4 linked regions of the Homo sapiens genome follow. The protein of the gene in region 1 purifies or fractionates together with the protein of each later gene. This does not show direct contact. Each region holds a gene or a part of one and is shown in the gene's direction. Other genes may lie near its edges.

The links.
Region 2: the proteins of RASAL2 (region 1) and FAM110B purify together in Homo sapiens (affinity purification with mass spectrometry, with the first as the bait; one large-scale study listed by BioGRID). This does not show direct contact.
Region 3: the proteins of RASAL2 (region 1) and KIF1C purify together in Homo sapiens (affinity purification with mass spectrometry, with the first as the bait; one large-scale study listed by BioGRID). This does not show direct contact.
Region 4: the proteins of RASAL2 (region 1) and TESK2 purify together in Homo sapiens (affinity purification with mass spectrometry, with the first as the bait; one large-scale study listed by BioGRID). This does not show direct contact.

Annotation. Positions count from the first base shown.
Region 1 is NC_000001.11:178,092,461-178,097,617, forward strand, and holds the start of RASAL2 (ras GTPase-activating protein nGAP), read left to right. Parts: upstream 1-1,643; 5' UTR 1,644-2,032; coding exon 2,033-2,234; intron 2,235-5,157. UniProt on the Homo sapiens protein: Inhibitory regulator of the Ras-cyclic AMP pathway.
Region 2 is NC_000008.11:58,000,636-58,005,043, forward strand, and holds part of FAM110B (protein FAM110B), read left to right. Parts: intron 1-4,408. UniProt on the Homo sapiens protein: May be involved in tumor progression.
Region 3 is NC_000017.11:5,021,592-5,025,975, forward strand, and holds part of KIF1C (kinesin-like protein KIF1C), read left to right. Parts: intron 1-500; coding exon 501-1,118; intron 1,119-1,876; coding exon 1,877-2,560; 3' UTR 2,561-4,384. UniProt on the Homo sapiens protein: Motor required for the retrograde transport of Golgi vesicles to the endoplasmic reticulum. Has a microtubule plus end-directed motility.
Region 4 is NC_000001.11:45,345,428-45,348,725, reverse strand, and holds part of TESK2 (dual specificity testis-specific protein kinase 2), read left to right. Parts: intron 1-725; coding exon 726-808; intron 809-1,032; coding exon 1,033-1,117; intron 1,118-1,663; coding exon 1,664-1,747; intron 1,748-1,946; coding exon 1,947-2,033; intron 2,034-2,731; coding exon 2,732-2,849; intron 2,850-3,167; coding exon 3,168-3,298. UniProt on the Homo sapiens protein: Dual specificity protein kinase activity catalyzing autophosphorylation and phosphorylation of exogenous substrates on both serine/threonine and tyrosine residues. Phosphorylates cofilin at 'Ser-3'. May play an important role in spermatogenesis.

The DNA of each region.
Region 1 (5,157 bases):
CCATTCCTGTAAACCATCAAGCCACAAATCAACAAGCTTAATCACAAAAGTTTCTTGAGGGAACAAAGTTGAAGTAATATCCATTGAGTCATTGTGGAACTATCTGTACTTGTGGTTGATTAGCCAGGTAAGCTGGTTTTTCCTCAGTTTCCTCACCTGTTAAACAAGAGGCAGAATGATGTTCTCTCTAAAACACTTCTTGCTTTGAAATACTATTACTCTAAATAAGACTTTGGAGAAACTCACAAAATACATCCTTGTTAACTCTCAATAAGCCCAAACAATATTCCAGGACCCCACAAAACCAGAAAACTAACAGGACCCCTTGTAGACCAGTCTCTTTGTGCAACGTAGGGAGAAAGGGCGGGGGGGACTAAAGAACCTCCCAAAAGGTATTAAAAATAGCAACATGTAATTATGAAAAATCTTGTTCCACATTAGGTAGCCACATTCAAGAAAAACTGTTGGAGATCTACTATGTCCAAGGCACGGTTTAAGTTATTACTGTTCAATTTTGAAATTATTATTGTTAACTTGTCAGTAATTTCTTAAACCTAAACTGGTGAAACTCTCCTTGGGTGGACATAAAAGTAAAGCCATGGCCAAGGAGGGAGACAGTCTACAAATAAACCAAAAATAAAATACAAGTGACATCATTAAAGGAAAAAAGCCAACACACTGCACAAAGATCAAAGACAAAACAGAGAAACATGTTTGGTTAATACTGGGCTTTGAGTATTTCATGTGCCTGAGAGGCCCGTCCGTCCATCCACACCACACTTCTTCACCATGCTGTTGCAAACCAATGACAAGTTCAGCTTCAGCGCGGACAGGGCGCAGGGCGCAGACCCTGTGCATATCCCAGAATCCCGGACCCACTGCCACTCCACTCTGGGAAGGAAGAAGGCGCTCCCCCTTGGGTGACTGTAAGATAAAGCAGCTTCTTCGATCTCTTTGTCCAATAAGAAAGAAACGTTGGCCCATAAAGAAAGAAAGAAACAAATAAATAGGAAAGGTGTGAGAAGGAAGGGAAGCTCCTTTCTTTTCTGTTTAAATTTCCCGCACCCTTTTACCTCCCCGCCTTCTCAAACGGTCTTTACTTTGAGCAGCAGAGACCCGGACCGCTCAATACCCGGCTATCCCTGGGAGGGTACTTGGAAAGTAGGCGGGACAGGCCGGATGAATAATTCGGTGTCCGACTTTTCCTGCCTGCGGCGCAGTCCCTCCCCGGCTTCGTTACTCGAGTGCACACGCGGCCGGGCTCTCGGCCCTCGATTGCTTCAGCCTATCACCCTGGGATGCCGCCTGCCGCTGCCGCCGCCGCCGCCGCCGCCACCGCCACCGCCACCGCCACCGCCACCGCCGTGGCTGCCGGGTTTGTGGGATCCGCCGCGGAGCAGGAGCCAGAGCTGTGGCCGGAGCTGTGGCCTGAGAGTCAGGGGGCGGGCAGGCTCATTCCAGAAGTGGGGGCCGAGGACAGGCGGGCTAGAACCCGGGGCCACCGCCCCCTACCCCTCCTCAGGCTGAGGGAACGGGCACTCGGAGCTTCTGAGGCGGCGGCGGCGGGAGCCGGTCAGAGGGGGCGGCCCCTGGCGGCGACGCCCCCAAGCCCAGCCCTGCCCGGCCCCGCTCCATCCCCAGCCAGAGCCTGGTCTGACCGCGAGAGACGCCGGCGGGGCTGAAGAAGGCGGCTCCGAGGAGGTGGGAGGGCGAGCCTCCCCTCCCGGGTTCTTCTGCGTCCTCTCCCGGGAGGGACCCACACACACCTGAGCCCGGACCCACCCTTGGTCGGGGCCACGCTGGATCCTCCTCCCGGCCTGGGTCCCGCCCGCCGACTGCAGGTGGGCTGCATCGCCCGAGCCTCGGGCAGTGGGCGACGGGGAAGGAGGTGAGAGGTGTCCGCGCCGGCTGCCGCTCGGGTCCCTGCCCTCGCTGCGCGCTCTCCTCCTCCCCTTACCGCAGGCAGGGCGCGGAGCCGCGCGCCAGCCCGCCCCGAAGCCGCCGCCTCGTCCCCCTCCCGCCTCGGGGCACCATGGAGCTCTCTCCGTCGTCCGGAGGAGCCGCGGAGGCGCTGTCCTGGCCGGAGATGTTCCCGGCGCTGGAGTCCGACTCGCCGCTGCCCCCGGAGGACCTGGACGCGGTTGTCCCAGTCAGTGGAGCCGTCGCCGGTGGCATGTTGGATCGGATCCTTCTGGAGTCCGTGTGCCAGCAACAGAGCTGGGTCCGGGTGTACGGTAAGGACCACAGGCCGTCTTAGAGGCTGGTGTTTCCTATTTTTGCTTGGGCTGAAATTCATTCCCTAAGTCACAGGCTCATTCCCAGTCCTCATCCGTGCTAGGTCAGTTTCCCACATCCCTTTTTGTTCTGGGGGTGCATTTCTGACAAGTTTCTTCAGACTATCACTTGGGCAGGGATGTCACTCAGTATGGTCTTTGGACCTCTTCAGACACCTGCAGTAAGTTTAATGCGGGAGTTGGGCTATCCAAGACGTAATTCTTAGGCGATTACTTCAAGGGAACAGCCAGGCAATCAATCTTCAAGAAGGTATGATGGAAAAACTCCATGAAACCAAGTGAATGGATTTTCGTCTCTTTTTATTGTTGAATGAGGCAAGACTGGAAACCAAGATATTATGAAAAAGCAGAGGATAAGCTAATGAATGAAAAAAATGCAAACTATGTATTTGGTGGGAGCAAGACTAATCTATAACCTCTGCCTGAACCTCACTCTCTCTAAAAGCAACCACTTATTCCAACGGGTGTGGATTGTTTCAGATTACACTATTGTTTCTGAATCTCGTTGTAAAGTGACTGGGTTGCCACTCAGCAGGTTAAAAGTGATGAACACACTAAAACTTTCCCTTTCTGCATTCCTGGTAACCACCTCTTTAATTAAAACTGAATGATGAGATTCTATTAGGGTGAGCCTTGTGGCAGCACTAAAACCATGCTGGTTTTGAAAACTCATAGCTTAAGGATTTATAGCCTGGCATTCAGGACTGAGCTGTGGCTTTCCAAAATATTGAAACGGCAAGATGTTTATCGCCTAGCTCACGTGACTGCAGAAGACATTAGTAACGTGGCTGAGTATAAGATGGCAAATTTGAAGCACCTGGGATCAAACACAATGTTAAGATGTTATCCTGCAGTCTTGTGCATCTAAGCCTGTAGTGATCAAGTACCTTATGTTTTTTTCTTTCATCTTTCTGAACAGGGTATATGCTTACTATTCAAGAGTGACCAAGACTTAGGTTTTTTTCTGTGTAGTTCAGTTGATTTGAAGACTTAATGTCCATCGCAAAGATCATAGAACTAGGAGTCCAGAGATCTCAGTTCTTGTCTCAGTTCTACCACTAAATGGCTATGGGATTTGGGGCAGATCGAGTCACATTTTTGGCTTGTGATTCCTCATCTGTAAAGTGAGTGGATTGGATTAAATCATCACTAGTGACCCTTTTAATCATAAAAATCCAGGAATTCTTCTTATAACCAGTTCTTAAGGATTTGTGTACCACTTTGTATTTTGCTGGCTGTTTCTTGATGTTACTCTACGTACCGGAAGATTTAAAGCAAAGGAGTGGGAGACGATGCAAGGTCACCCAGTTTGTTCTCAGCAAATTAGATTAAAAACTTTGGTGCCTGATTTTCCGTCTGCCTGCTAAATCCCACTTAGCTGGTCATTTAGAACAAAGGTTGGTGAGAATCTGAAAGTGCATATGAATTAGAGTATATTGTAGTTACAACGTTTTCCCATTCTATCATCTTTCTCTCCTTACACACTTCTTTGGCATACTGTTTATTTGTGTGATGTTAGAAATAGGGCCATGCTATTCTAAGAATACATGTATATGATAATTCGGTATTTCAGTATCCAAAACAATCTGGGTTCTCTGGACCTAGTGTTAACTATCGTTCTTCATTTGTAAGGACATAAAAGTCTACAAATGTATGTTGTTTTGTAGTCCATTCCTAGGGGTTGATTTGTGAAATATATATTGTATATTTTGTGTGTGTGTGTGTGTGTGTGTAAGAGAGAGAGAGAGTGAGAGCAAGTTTACATTATGTTTTTTTTCTTTCGTCCTTCTGAACAGGATATATGTTTATTGTTCAAGAGTGACCACGACTTAGAAGTTTTCTTTCTGCGTGGTTCAATTGATGTCAAGACTTCATATCAGACATCACAGAAATGCATGGTATGTATATGTGTGTGACACACACATATACATACCATGCCTTGCATTTTTGTGACCAATTGCAGACTTACCACTGCATTGTAACTTTTTTTGTTTTCTCTATCAATTAACCAGAAGTTGTTTTTATTTATTGTTTAGTATTGCTACTTTCCTTCCTCTGAGGCAGCTCATCCTGGATACTATTTTGTTGTCTTTAGTTTATGTAAATATTTCAGAACTATTGGAATGACTCTTGGCTATGTCCTTAGCTAGTTTTAAGTTGCCTATTGTATGAACAGGGTGTATGTTTGAAAACTTTGAAGTAAAAACTTTGAAATAAAAGTAATAGAATGTAGAAAAACAATTTGGAGAATACAGAATTTTTGTTTTTCTTGTTTCTTGTCTGTGTGTTCAAAACCTTCGTTGTCTTGGATCACCTAGGTTCTTCTCACAATTTAAAGAGACTTTGATGAGTGTAGTCTAACATGTTTCAGGGAAATCTACAAATTGGGAACCTAGTCTAGAGGATACAACTAGAAGCTTAGAGTATTGGTTTCATTCTGGCTTTGCCACAAGTTGGTTGTCTAATTCTGGGCAGGTAGTTTTAACTCATGGCCTCTAGGTTTCAGCATAAAAGTGGAATCTGGAGTAATTGGTATCTGTGGTCCCTTTTAGCTTTAAAGTTGTCTGATTCTGTGGCTTGGCCCATTATTTTACCTGCAGGTTGGCCTATAATCTTTATCCTGGCTCTTGGGGCCAGGCATTAACCAAGCCCTTAACTTAATGCATTTAAATCATGATTGTCAGGGAATTCTGGGGAGCAGTTTTATCAAAAGGTCAGTGAACTGAGTTTTCAAAGAAGATATATTGAAGGCAGATGTTTATTTATTTGGAATGTTTTCACAAGATAGGAAGATGAGTATGGCGATGTTGCTTAGGTCTAGTTCATCCAGTTTTGAGACCTAACCTACATAGCCATGTGGGTT
Region 2 (4,408 bases), on another chromosome or scaffold:
TTACTTTCTCTGGCTACCACGGGGGCCACCATTTCTACTCTTGGTCAAAAAGAGACATTTGGAAATTGGGCATTCAGCAATTTTGGGAAATACCAGTGAATCCTGATTACGCTTGTGTGTTTTTACCACATAGTTAAAACAAGGTGAGAGTTGGGAGGTTCATTGTACAGTTGACTGTGAGTTGGGGATTTAAAAAAAATTCCTTTAATCTATCCCTAGCCAGTGTCCTTTCAAATGATCATTTATTGGAATGTTGTGATTTTAAAATCAGATTTTTTCCCCCCAATACATTTTATTCTTGTTTAGTGACAATGATAGAAGAAGAGAAATCATTGTGTGGGTTGTTAATATGACTAGTCATGGGTGCTCTTCACAGCTTCTGTTGGCTTTGTTCCAACCTGCAACATGCACCCGGGTGTGTAACCATAAACCGTTTTATAATGTTTTGGTAAAGTGGCCACAGTTTTTGCGGGGATAGACTGCCTGCCTAGTAACTTAGTTCCTTAATTTAATGAAGATTTTTTTTTCTAGTTCTTCTTAGTGAATCTGTATGTTCCTCTCTTATTGGTGGAGAGTAGTACAGTCATATAAATATATATTTTGTGGGTAGTTGAAATGTTCTTTTAGGTAGTGCCAGAGAATATCTGTGGTCTGCCTGTATTATTTGGAAATTGACTTCAAATGAATTTTCCATGGAAGCAGTGAAAGTGCCACACTTGTCATGGAGCTAGTGTGTGCAGGTGTGTGTGTGTGTGTGAGAAAGGGGCCTAGTGTTCAGTATACACATAGCATTTCCTGTTTTTCCAGTTAGAAGTGGCTCTGCCCTTGCCTCAATGTGACATGTGTTTTAACTCATGTGGCCTGATTTGCTTGTTTGATTTTTCTTACAGGTATTTTTCATTCCAGGATTCACTAGCGTTACAAGATCGAACTGTTTTGATTGTTCATCCCTGGTTGTTATCTCTACCAGCCTTTTTCTGAGTAATTTCAGTGTGAAGCATGCTGCTGTTTAGGTACTGTGAGTTATCCATAAAGGGACCAAATCGCAGGGCCCTTTAATTAAGCATACCGGCATATTAGCAAATACCTTTATACGTTTTGTGCCAGAGATACTTAAGTATCTTCATTTTCTTTGGACTTTTCATTTTACCAGATGGTATTAATTATTCACATATACCTTGTATTAGTGAGAGAACCAGAGAACCAGAACCAATAGAATATACATAGAAAAAAAGAGATTTATTACAAGGAATTGTCTTACATGATTATGGAGGCTGAGAAGTCCCATGATCTGCTGTCTCCAAGATGGAGACCCAGGAGAACCAATGGTATAAGTTCTAGTATAAGGTCAGGAAAATATAGATGTATTAGCTAAGCAGCTAGAGAGAGAGAGAGAGAAAGAGAGAGACAGAGAGAGAGACAGAGAGAATTCAATCTTTCTTCACCTTTTTGTTCCATTTGGGCCTTCTACTGGTTGGATAATGCCCACCCACATTGGGGAGGGCCTTTTCCTTTACTCAGTCCATCAATTCAATGCTGATTTCCTCCAGAAACACCCACAGGTACAGCCAGAAATAATGTTTAACAAGATATCTGGGCACCCCAGTAGACCAATCAAGTAGACACATAAAATTAACAATCACATATCTGTAATACAATCAGAGTCAGGTTTTGTTAAAACATTTTTGTAAAAGTATACTTCCCAAGTTGGTTTAAATGAGCTGACTCCAAGAGTGTTAACACCAGGTACCACTTCTCTAAGTCCTGCTTCTCTACAAAGTCTTTCTCAGTAGTGCTAGCAACATCATACTTTTTCCTTCCTGACCAACACTTCCTTTATTGAACCAATTGATGGCAGCATTTTTGGTGTATTCTTGGTTTTGTGAGTGTATCTTCTGTAAGACAGTAAGTTCATCCACAATGAAGACAGTATCTACTGGCATACCTTGGAGACAAATTGTGGGTTTGATTCCAGACCACCACCATAAAGTGAGTATTACAATAAAGTGAGTCACTTGAATTTTTTGGTTTCTGGGTGCATATAAAAATTATGCTTAAACTATACTGTAGTCTATTAAGTGTGCAATAGCATTGTCTAAGAAAACAATGTACATACCTTAATTAAAATACTTTATTGCTAAAAAATGCTGATGATCATCTGAGCCTTCAGCAAGTCATACTCTTTCTGCTGCTGGAGGTTCTTGCCTTAGTGTTGATGGCTGGTGACTGATCAGGGTGGCAGTTACTGCATGTTTGGGTAGCTGTGGCAGTTTCTTAAAATAAGACAGTAATGAAGTTTGCTGCATCAACTGACTCTTCCTTTCACCAAAGATTTCTCTAGAGCATGTGTTGCTGTTTGATAGCACTTTCCCCATAGTAGAACTTTCAAAATTGTAGTCAGTCTTCTCAAACCCTGCCACTGTTTTATCAACTAAGTTATGTAATATTCTAAATTGTTTGTTGTCCTTTCAACAGTGTTTAGAGCATCTTCAGCAGGAGTAGATTCCATCTCAAGAAATGAGTCTTTATTTTTTCATCCATAATAAGCAACTCCTCATCTGTTAGTTTTATCATGAGATTGCAGCAATTCAGTCACATCTTCAGGCTCCGCTTGTAACTCTAGTTCTCTTGCTATTTCCACCGGATCTGCAATTACTCCTCCATGGGAGTCTTGAACCTCTCAAAGTCATCTATGAGAGTTGGGATCAACTTCTTCCAAACTCCTGTTAATGTTAATATTTTGATCTCCTCCCATGAATCATGACCGTTCTTAATGGTATTTAGAATGGTGAATCCTTTCCAGAAGGTTTTTGATTTACTTTTCCACTTTTCCTGGATACATCAGAGCAATCAGTATCTATGGCAGCTATAGCCTTACAAAGGGTATTCCTTAAGTAATAAGACTTGAAAGTTGAAATTACTCATTGATCCATGTGCTGCAGAATGAATGTTGTGTTAGCAGGCATGAAAACAACATTTATGTCTTTGTACATCTCTATCAGAGCTTTTGGGTGACCAGGGGCATTGTAATTGAGCAGTAATATTTTGAAAGGAATCTTTTTCCTGAGCAGTGGGTCTCAACAATGGTCTTAAAATATTCAGTAGATCATACTGTAAACAGATGTGCTGTCATCCAGGCTTTGTTGTGTAGAGCACTGAGAGAGTAGACTTAGTATCATTCTTAAGAGCCCTGGGACATTCAGAATGGTAAGTCAGCATTGGCTTCAACTTCAAGTTACCAACTGCATTAGCTTCTAATGAGAGAGTCAGCCTGTCTTTTGAAGCTTTGAAGCCAGACATTGACTTCTCCCTCTAGCTATGAAAGTTTTGACCAGCAGTCCCCAACATTTTTGGCACCAGGGACCAGTTTTGTGGAAGACAGTTTTTCCACGGACTGGGGGATGGGGTGGGGGAGGGGGATGGTTTCATGATGATTCAAGCTCATTACATTTTTCATTAGATTCTCCTAAGAAGCACGCAACCCAGATCCCTTGCATGCACAGTTCACAATAAGGTTCGTGCTCCTTTGAGAATCTAATGCCTCCACTGATCTGACAGAAGATGGATTGCTTGCCTGCCACTCACCTCTTGCTGTGCAGCCTAGTTCCTAAACCCAGGGATTGGGGTCCCCTGTCCTAGATGACATCTTCTTCCAATATAAGGCCATTTTGTCTACACTGAAAACCTGTTGTCTAGTTGTAGCCATCTTCATCAATGATCTTAGCTCCATATTCTAGATAACTTGTGCAGCTTCTACATCAGCACTTGCTGCTTCACCTTGCACTTCTATGTTATGGAGATGGCTTCTTTCCTTAAATCTCATGAACTGCCGGGCACACTGGCTCATACCTGTAATCCCAGCACTTTGGGAGGCCAAGGTGGGTGGATCACTTGAGGTCAGGAGTTCAAGACCAGCCTGGCCAACATGGCGAAACCCTGTCTCTACTAAAGATGCAAAAATTAGCCAGGCCTGGTTGTGCGTGCCTGTAGTCCCAGCTACATGGGAGGCTGAGGCAGGAGAATTGCTTGAGCCCGGGAAGCGGAGATTGCAGTGAGCTGAGATCGCACCACTGCACTCCAGCCTGGGCGACAGAGCAAAACCCCATCTCAAACAAACAAACAAACCTCATGAACCAACGTCTGCTAGCTTTCAATTATTCCTTTGCAGCTCTGTCATCTCTCTCAGCCTTCATTGAAGAGAGTTAAGGCCTTGCTCTGGATTGGGCCTTGACTTACGGGAATATTGTGGCTGGTTTAATTTTTTATCCAGACCACTAAAACTGTCTCCCGAGAAGCGATAAGGCTGTTTTGCTTTCTCATCCTTTGTGAGTTAGCTGGAGTAGCAGTTTAAGTTTTCTTCAAGAACTTTCCTTTGCATGCCCAACTTGGTTCACTGTTTGGCTAAAGA
Region 3 (4,384 bases), on another chromosome or scaffold:
CACCTCAACCTCCTGAGTAGCTGGGATCACAGGTGTGCACTTCCATGCCTGGCTACATTTTTTATTTTTTGTAGAGGTGGGGGTCTCACTACATTACCCAGGCTGGTCTTCAGCTCCTGGGCTCAAGTGATCCTCCTGCCTTGGCCTTCCAACATGCTGGGATTGCAGGCACGAGCCACCACCCCTCAATGGTCTTTTAAGTCTTGCACAAAGTTCCACACTCGATTAGCTACAACTAATACTTATGGTAACTTTCTCGGTGCCGGCCATGGTTCTAAGTACTCCACGTGGATCTGGGAGGTAGATCCCGTCACTATCTCTGTTGTCTAGAAGAGCAGCGTTAAGCAGTCTGCCCAAGGGTGCGCTGTTGGGGTGGAGCAGGACTTGAACCCAGGCTCCCTGATGGGCGTGTTTCCAGTGTACTTAGGACACACTGGGCCAAGACACATGGGCTCTGGATGTCCTTAGCCCTCTCTTCCTCTTTCTTTCTCTGGCCCCAGTATGCAGACTCGGACAGCGGGGATGACTCTGACAAGCGCTCTTGTGAAGAGAGCTGGAGGCTCATCTCCTCCTTGCGGGAGCAGCTGCCGCCCACCACGGTCCAGACCATTGTCAAACGCTGTGGTCTGCCCAGCAGTGGCAAGCGCAGGGCCCCTCGCAGGGTTTATCAGATCCCCCAGCGACGCAGGCTGCAGGGCAAAGACCCCCGCTGGGCCACCATGGCTGACCTGAAGATGCAGGCGGTGAAGGAGATCTGCTACGAGGTGGCCCTGGCTGACTTCCGCCACGGGCGGGCTGAGATTGAGGCCCTGGCCGCCCTCAAGATGCGGGAGCTGTGTCGCACCTATGGCAAGCCAGACGGCCCCGGAGACGCCTGGAGGGCTGTGGCCCGGGATGTCTGGGACACTGTAGGCGAGGAGGAAGGAGGTGGAGCTGGCAGTGGTGGTGGCAGTGAGGAGGGAGCCCGAGGGGCGGAGGTGGAGGACCTCCGGGCCCACATCGACAAGCTGACGGGGATTCTGCAGGAGGTGAAGCTGCAGAACAGCAGCAAGGACCGGGAGCTGCAGGCCCTGCGGGACCGCATGCTCCGCATGGAGAGGGTCATCCCCCTGGCCCAGGTAGGACTGGCCTTCTGCCTCCCTTCTCTCCTCCCTCGGCTCTTCACTTTAGGAGTCTGAACCTTCCATCTCAGAGCCTAACCTTCCCCAAGTCTGGAAAAAATTGCATTGAAGTATAGTACGTTTTTTTCAATATTGTTTACGAACCACATGCCTCGCTGTCACCAGGCTGCTAATTAAAATAGATTCCCGGGTTCCACCCCAGACCTACTGAATCCACATCTTTGGGGACAAATCTGCATTTATAATAAGCTCTGGGTGTTTCTGAAATACAGTGAAGTCTAAGACCCACTGATATAAAGTTTGCAGTTTTGTTTTGTTTCTGAGGTGAAGTCTTGCTCTGTTGCCAGTCTGGAGTGCAGTGGCACAATCTCGGCTCACTGCAACTTCCGCCTCCCAGGTTCAAGCCATTCTCCTGCCTCAGCCTCCTGAGTAGCTGGGACTACAGGCGCGCACCACCACACCCGGCTAATTTTTTTTTTTTGTATTTTAGTAGAGACGGGGTTTCACCATGTTGGCCAGGATGGTCTTGATCTCTTGACCTTGTGATCCGCCCACCTCAGCTTCCCAAAGTGCTGCGATTACAGGCGTGAGCCACTGCGCCCGGCCCTAAACCACTATTTTTCGAGCTTCCTTATCTCTAGGCTTTTCTCTGGACCCTTTGACATCCAGCCACTCCAGGTCCCTCTTGAATCCACATGTCCTGAGGATTCAGCTCTCCTCACATCCCTTCTCCTTTTCTCACTCCTCCCTCCCAGGATCATGAGGATGAGAATGAAGAAGGTGGTGAGGTCCCCTGGGCCCCGCCTGAAGGATCAGAGGCAGCAGAGGAGGCAGCCCCCAGTGACCGCATGCCGTCAGCCCGGCCCCCCTCGCCACCACTGTCAAGCTGGGAGCGGGTGTCACGGCTCATGGAGGAGGACCCTGCCTTCCGTCGTGGTCGTCTTCGCTGGCTCAAGCAGGAGCAGCTACGGCTGCAGGGACTGCAGGGCTCTGGGGGCCGGGGCGGGGGGCTGCGCAGGCCCCCAGCCCGCTTTGTGCCCCCTCACGACTGCAAGCTACGCTTCCCCTTCAAGAGCAACCCCCAGCACCGGGAGTCTTGGCCAGGGATGGGGAGCGGGGAGGCTCCAACTCCGCTCCAACCCCCTGAGGAGGTCACTCCCCATCCAGCCACCCCTGCCCGCCGGCCTCCGAGTCCCCGAAGGTCCCACCATCCCCGCAGGAACTCCCTGGATGGAGGGGGCCGATCCCGGGGAGCGGGTTCTGCACAGCCTGAACCCCAGCACTTCCAGCCCAAAAAGCACAACTCTTATCCCCAGCCACCCCAACCCTACCCAGCCCAGCGGCCCCCAGGGCCCCGCTACCCCCCATACACTACTCCCCCACGAATGAGACGGCAGCGTTCTGCCCCTGACCTCAAGGAGAGTGGGGCAGCTGTGTGAGTCCCACATCCTGGGCAGAGGGCCTGGTGGGGCCCCTTGCTAGGAGAAGGGAAGACGCCCGAGACGCTGCTTCCCCAGAAGTGCTGGGGCAGGGAGGCCCAGGAGATGAGAGAGAAGGTCCGAGTAGGTGATAGAAGACAAGGGGGAGACCGAGCCGGAGGCTGAGGAAAGGAAGAGGGCACGGAGTTGCCAGGAGCAAACCAAAGTGAAGAGAGAGATAGGAAGCTGCCTCGGGGCCACCCCTTGCAAAGGGGGTGTGTCCCACAAACGCTGCTATGGGTGGGGTGGGGGGCTGGGGTGCTGCGTAGCCAGTGTTTGACTTTCTTTTCAAGTGGGGGAAAGTGGGAGAGGACTGAGAGTGAGGCAAGTTCTCCCCAGCCCCTGTCCGTCTGTCTGTCTGTCTGTGGTGGTTTCTGTTTCTTGGGAGGCATGGTAGGATCATAAGTCATTCCCCTCCCCTTCCAGGCCTCCTGCTATATTTGGGGGACCTGACTGGTTTGGCTGGAGTCCCATGAGGATGTGGGCCCTTTAATAAAGGATAGCAAACAGGGAGCTTGTGGCCTGTTTGTTTTGGGTTTTCATGGAGGTGTAGGTTATATAAGGCAATGGCACAGGTCTTAAGCATACTTATCAGTGAAGTATTGTATGTGTGCTCTGTGCAGGCACCACCCAGATCTGGATATAAGAATGTTTCCATCTTGTCTTCCTGAACTTCACCCTCCTGTCTCTTCCTTCAGGGTGCGCAGCCCGATCTTTTCCCCGCTTTTTTTTTTTGGGAGACAGGGTCTTGCTTTGTTGCCCAGGCTGGAGGTACAGTCTTGGCTCACTGCAGCCTCCGCCTCCTGAGTAGCTGGGATTACAGGCATGTGCCACCACGCCCGGCTCATTACTGTTTTTTTTGTAGTGACGAGGTTTCACCATATTGGCCAGGCTGGTCTCGAACTCCTGATGACCTCAAGTGATCCGCCCACCTTGGCCTCCCAAAGTGGTGGGATTACAGGTGTGAGCCACCGCGCCCGGCCTCCCCTGCTTTCATGTTTGCTTACCCAGTGTCTCAGTCTGTGCCAGCAGCACCACTGTCTGTTATGGACAAAGCACAGAAGCGGGGATGCGAGGGGAGGTAGAGGGACCGCCAGCCTGTCAATGCTTAACTGGCTGTTGCTGACAGATACAGAAGGATTTGTGGGGTACAGAGGAGTTCTGCTTTAAGTCACCTAACTTACTTGAAAGGTCTCCCAAGCAGCCAGTTTCTCTTGATAGTGAATGGGTTGGGCAAGCATACTGCGCTTACCTGATTGTTTTCATCCTGGTTGTGTTACCTGCCTTCTGGCAGGCTACATCATTGTTCCCAGTCGTTATTTTATTTGTGTTAAGACTGTTTGTTGGCCAGGCGCAGTGGTTCACGCCTGTAATGCCAGCACTGGGAGGCCGAGGCAGGTGGATCACGAGGTCAGGAGATCGAGACCATCCTGGCTATCATGGTGAAACCCCATCTCTACTAAAAATAAAAATAAAAAAATTAGCCGGGCATGGTGGCGGGGGCCTGTAGTCCCAGCTACTCAGGAGGCTGAGGCAGGAGAATGGCATGAACCTGGGAGGCGGAGCTTGCAGTGAGCTGAGATTGCGCCACTGCACTCCAGCCTGGGCGACAGAGCGAGACTCCATTTCAAGAAAAATTAAAAAACTGTTTGTTGCCTGCTTGTTTTAATGTTCTGGCTTGAGGCAGCGAGCCCTTGACTATGCCACATTGCCAGGATTTTGCAGGTTAGATTGTACTACAGCACTGCCTTTGGCTTGCCAGACTCTGGAGTCCCCACATTTTCA
Region 4 (3,298 bases), about 130 Mb from region 1:
CTTAAAATACAAAATTTTCTTAGGTGAAAAGGATAATTGGGAGAATATTTCAAATGAAAGGGAACAATGTAAGCAAAGGCAAAGGCTTGAAGGACCTGTTCAGGTTTGGTAAGTCAAGCTTGTCTGTGACAAGTTTGGATGAGGATATGTGCATAGGGGCACCAGGAACAGGGGGACAGCGGCTAGGCCAGTTGGATAAAGCCAGATCATAGACTTTTAATGCCAGAGAAGAGGTTGGTTGTGATCTTGTGGACAGTGAAGGTTAGTGAAGGCTTAGACACTTGTCTTGTGCTTATATCAAGTTGGCAAGGTCAGGCCTGGGCTTTGGGTCTGTGTTTCTGAGGAAGGAGGAAGGGAGGCCAGGGGCCTGATAGTCTGTTGTTCTCCCCTATATTGCAAGCTCCAAGAGGACAAGGGTTTTGGTTGTTTTCATCTAGCTATTTCTAGCACTTAAAATTATGCCTAGCACTTAGAAAGCAAAGATGAGTAATTGTGTTTGGAATGTGAAGTGTATCCTAGGACAGCCACCCAAGACCCAGGACTAACTCATCTCACCTGGCTGTCTTAGAGCCCCTGACCTGACCAGTGGGGTCAGCTTGAGTGCGGTTCACCAAGGAGCAGAGGACAAGGTGCCCTGTGATAGGAAGGGGGGAATGGGTGGTAACTCTATGGCTGATCCCCGCTTCTGAGCCACATTATTTTCTCTTCCTTCCTGGGAACCCTAGAACTGCCTGATAAAGAGGGATGAGAATGGTTACTCTGCAGTGGTAGCTGACTTTGGCCTGGCTGAGAAGATCCCCGATGTCAGGTGTGTAGCCCTACTGGATGCTGGGGTCCAAGGGACAGGGGGCTGAAGCTAAGGGAAAATTCTAGCCTCCTCCCCAGAGGCCAGGACTTGGTCACAGCTCAACCTCAGCTCCCTAAATTTGTTTAGTCCTCGTCTGTACCCATCCTTGAGGTGGAGGAATGGTCAAAAGATTCCATTGCACCAGCCATTGGCAAGCTCATTTTCTGTATAATCTCACCCCACAGCATGGGGAGTGAGAAGCTGGCCGTGGTGGGTTCCCCATTCTGGATGGCACCTGAGGTTCTCCGAGATGAGCCCTATAATGAAAAGGTAAGTTTGGAGGATCTCAAGGCCTGATTCTCCTTTTTTCTTTTTCTTTTTTTTGAGATGGTCTCACTATGTTGCTCAGGCTGGAATGCAGTGGCACGATCTCGGCTTACTGCCTCCCGAGTTCAAGCTATTCTCCTGCCTCAGCTTCCCAAGTAGCTGGAATTACAGGCATGCACCACCACGCCCAGCTAATTTTTTTATTTTTAGTAGAGACAGGGTTTCACCATATTGGCCAGGCTGGTCTCAGACTCCTGACCTGAAGTGATCTGCCCACCTCGGCCTCTTGAAGTGCTGGGATTACAGGCATGAGCCATCGCGCTCGGCTGATTCTCCCTAGAATCCACTCTTAGCAGAGTGTCCAAGATGTTCCTACCAAGAGCAGTGGTGGTACCTGGCAGCTGCCCAGTGACTGACTGGGATGAAGTATGGGCAATATGGCCCAGGCCTGGGCTGTTAGATGGTGGGGTGCAGGGGAGGCAGGGGCAGGGGCAGATACCCTACCCCTCAACCCATTAAGAGGGAAACCAAAGTCCGACTACCCACCAGGCAGATGTGTTCTCTTATGGTATCATCCTCTGCGAGATCATCGCCCGCATCCAGGCCGATCCGGACTATCTTCCCCGCACAGAGGTGAGCTGCAAGCATGGGGATCATTGCCACTGATGGGGCTAGTTTGAAGCAATGGAACTGTTCTGTCCCTGGGATGGACTTGCTGGAACTCTCTGTTGCTGGTTGTCAGGGGCAGCTCCCAACCACTTCTACTGAGCAGGCTAGGATGGGTGGGGGGATTAATGAACTGTCTACCTATGCTTTCCATACCCATCCACAGAATTTCGGGCTGGACTATGATGCTTTCCAGCACATGGTGGGAGACTGTCCCCCAGATTTTCTGCAACTTACTTTCAACTGCTGTAACGTGAGTGTCTTTCTCCCTCTGCCTTTCATCAGGGGCTGGCTGAACCCTTTTCACCTGGTTAGGACTGTACAGAGAGGCTGCTAATTAGCTTCATGAGGGACCTCATTTTCACTGTAGTGACAGCAACCACACCTCCTCCTCCTCCCTCTGGCAGCTAACCTATTCAGAGCTCTGGACAAAGGAAAGAAAGAAGTTGTTTTGTATTATCTGGTCCTCAACCTGTAGGGTAGACCCATCACTCCTTGCGTTAGGTGTTGATGGAACTCTGGTCCGGTTTTATTGTTGGACTGTGGATCCAACTGGTCCTGAGGCATATGAGAAAGGCTCTTCTTGGCCTTCATGTATGTAGCTCTGGGGCTGGACCTTACCTGTTAGGATCAAGGGGTAGGTGGGCTTTGTTCAGATACCTCCCAGAAACACATTAGGAGCAGAACTCAAGAACAGAATAAACTAATATGAGCATACTTTTGGAAGGTTCTGTGACAAGGTGATAAGACAAACACTAAGACAGGGAGGGTAGTAGACAGTAGTGTTTTCCCTGACCTGAACTGTAGGGATCACCTTCATTGTCTGGGGCCTTTAGAAAAGGTCTCTCAGCTGCACATCTGAATCTTCAAAGATGCCAGAAATAGACTCAAATGCCATCTTTGGGGTGGGAGATGGAGGGCAGAGCTCATGGCTGTTGTGGATACCTACAGATGGATCCCAAACTGCGCCCATCTTTTGTGGAGATTGGGAAGACCCTGGAGGAAATTCTGAGCCGCCTACAGGAAGAAGAGCAGGAGAGGGATAGGAAGCTGCAGCCCACAGCCAGGGGTAAGAGATTAGACCAGGGAGCCCAACCTAACCCTAAGGGAGGAAATTCGGATGTGGGGCCTTCTCCTCTTAGGGTTGTGATTGCCAGGATCCCAGGTCCAGAAACAAATGGGAGGGGAAGGAGATGATGCAGAAAGTACTGGCCTTTTTAAGAGCTGTGGCTTGGCATACTGCTTCCCCTCTCTGAGTCTGTTTCTTCATTGGTAAAACAGGGCCATGGTATCAGCTTTGCTTTCATGAGTGAAAACATTCTGTGGTAAAATGCTGCTTGTATTTGTTATGACTAGTGAGAGTAACCCAGACTTGATTATTCTTCAGGACTCTTGGAGAAAGCACCTGGGGTGAAGCGACTAAGCTCACTGGATGACAAGATCCCCCACAAGTCACCATGCCCAAGACGTACCATCTGGCTGTCTCGAAGCCAGTCAGATATCTTTTCCCGTAAGCCC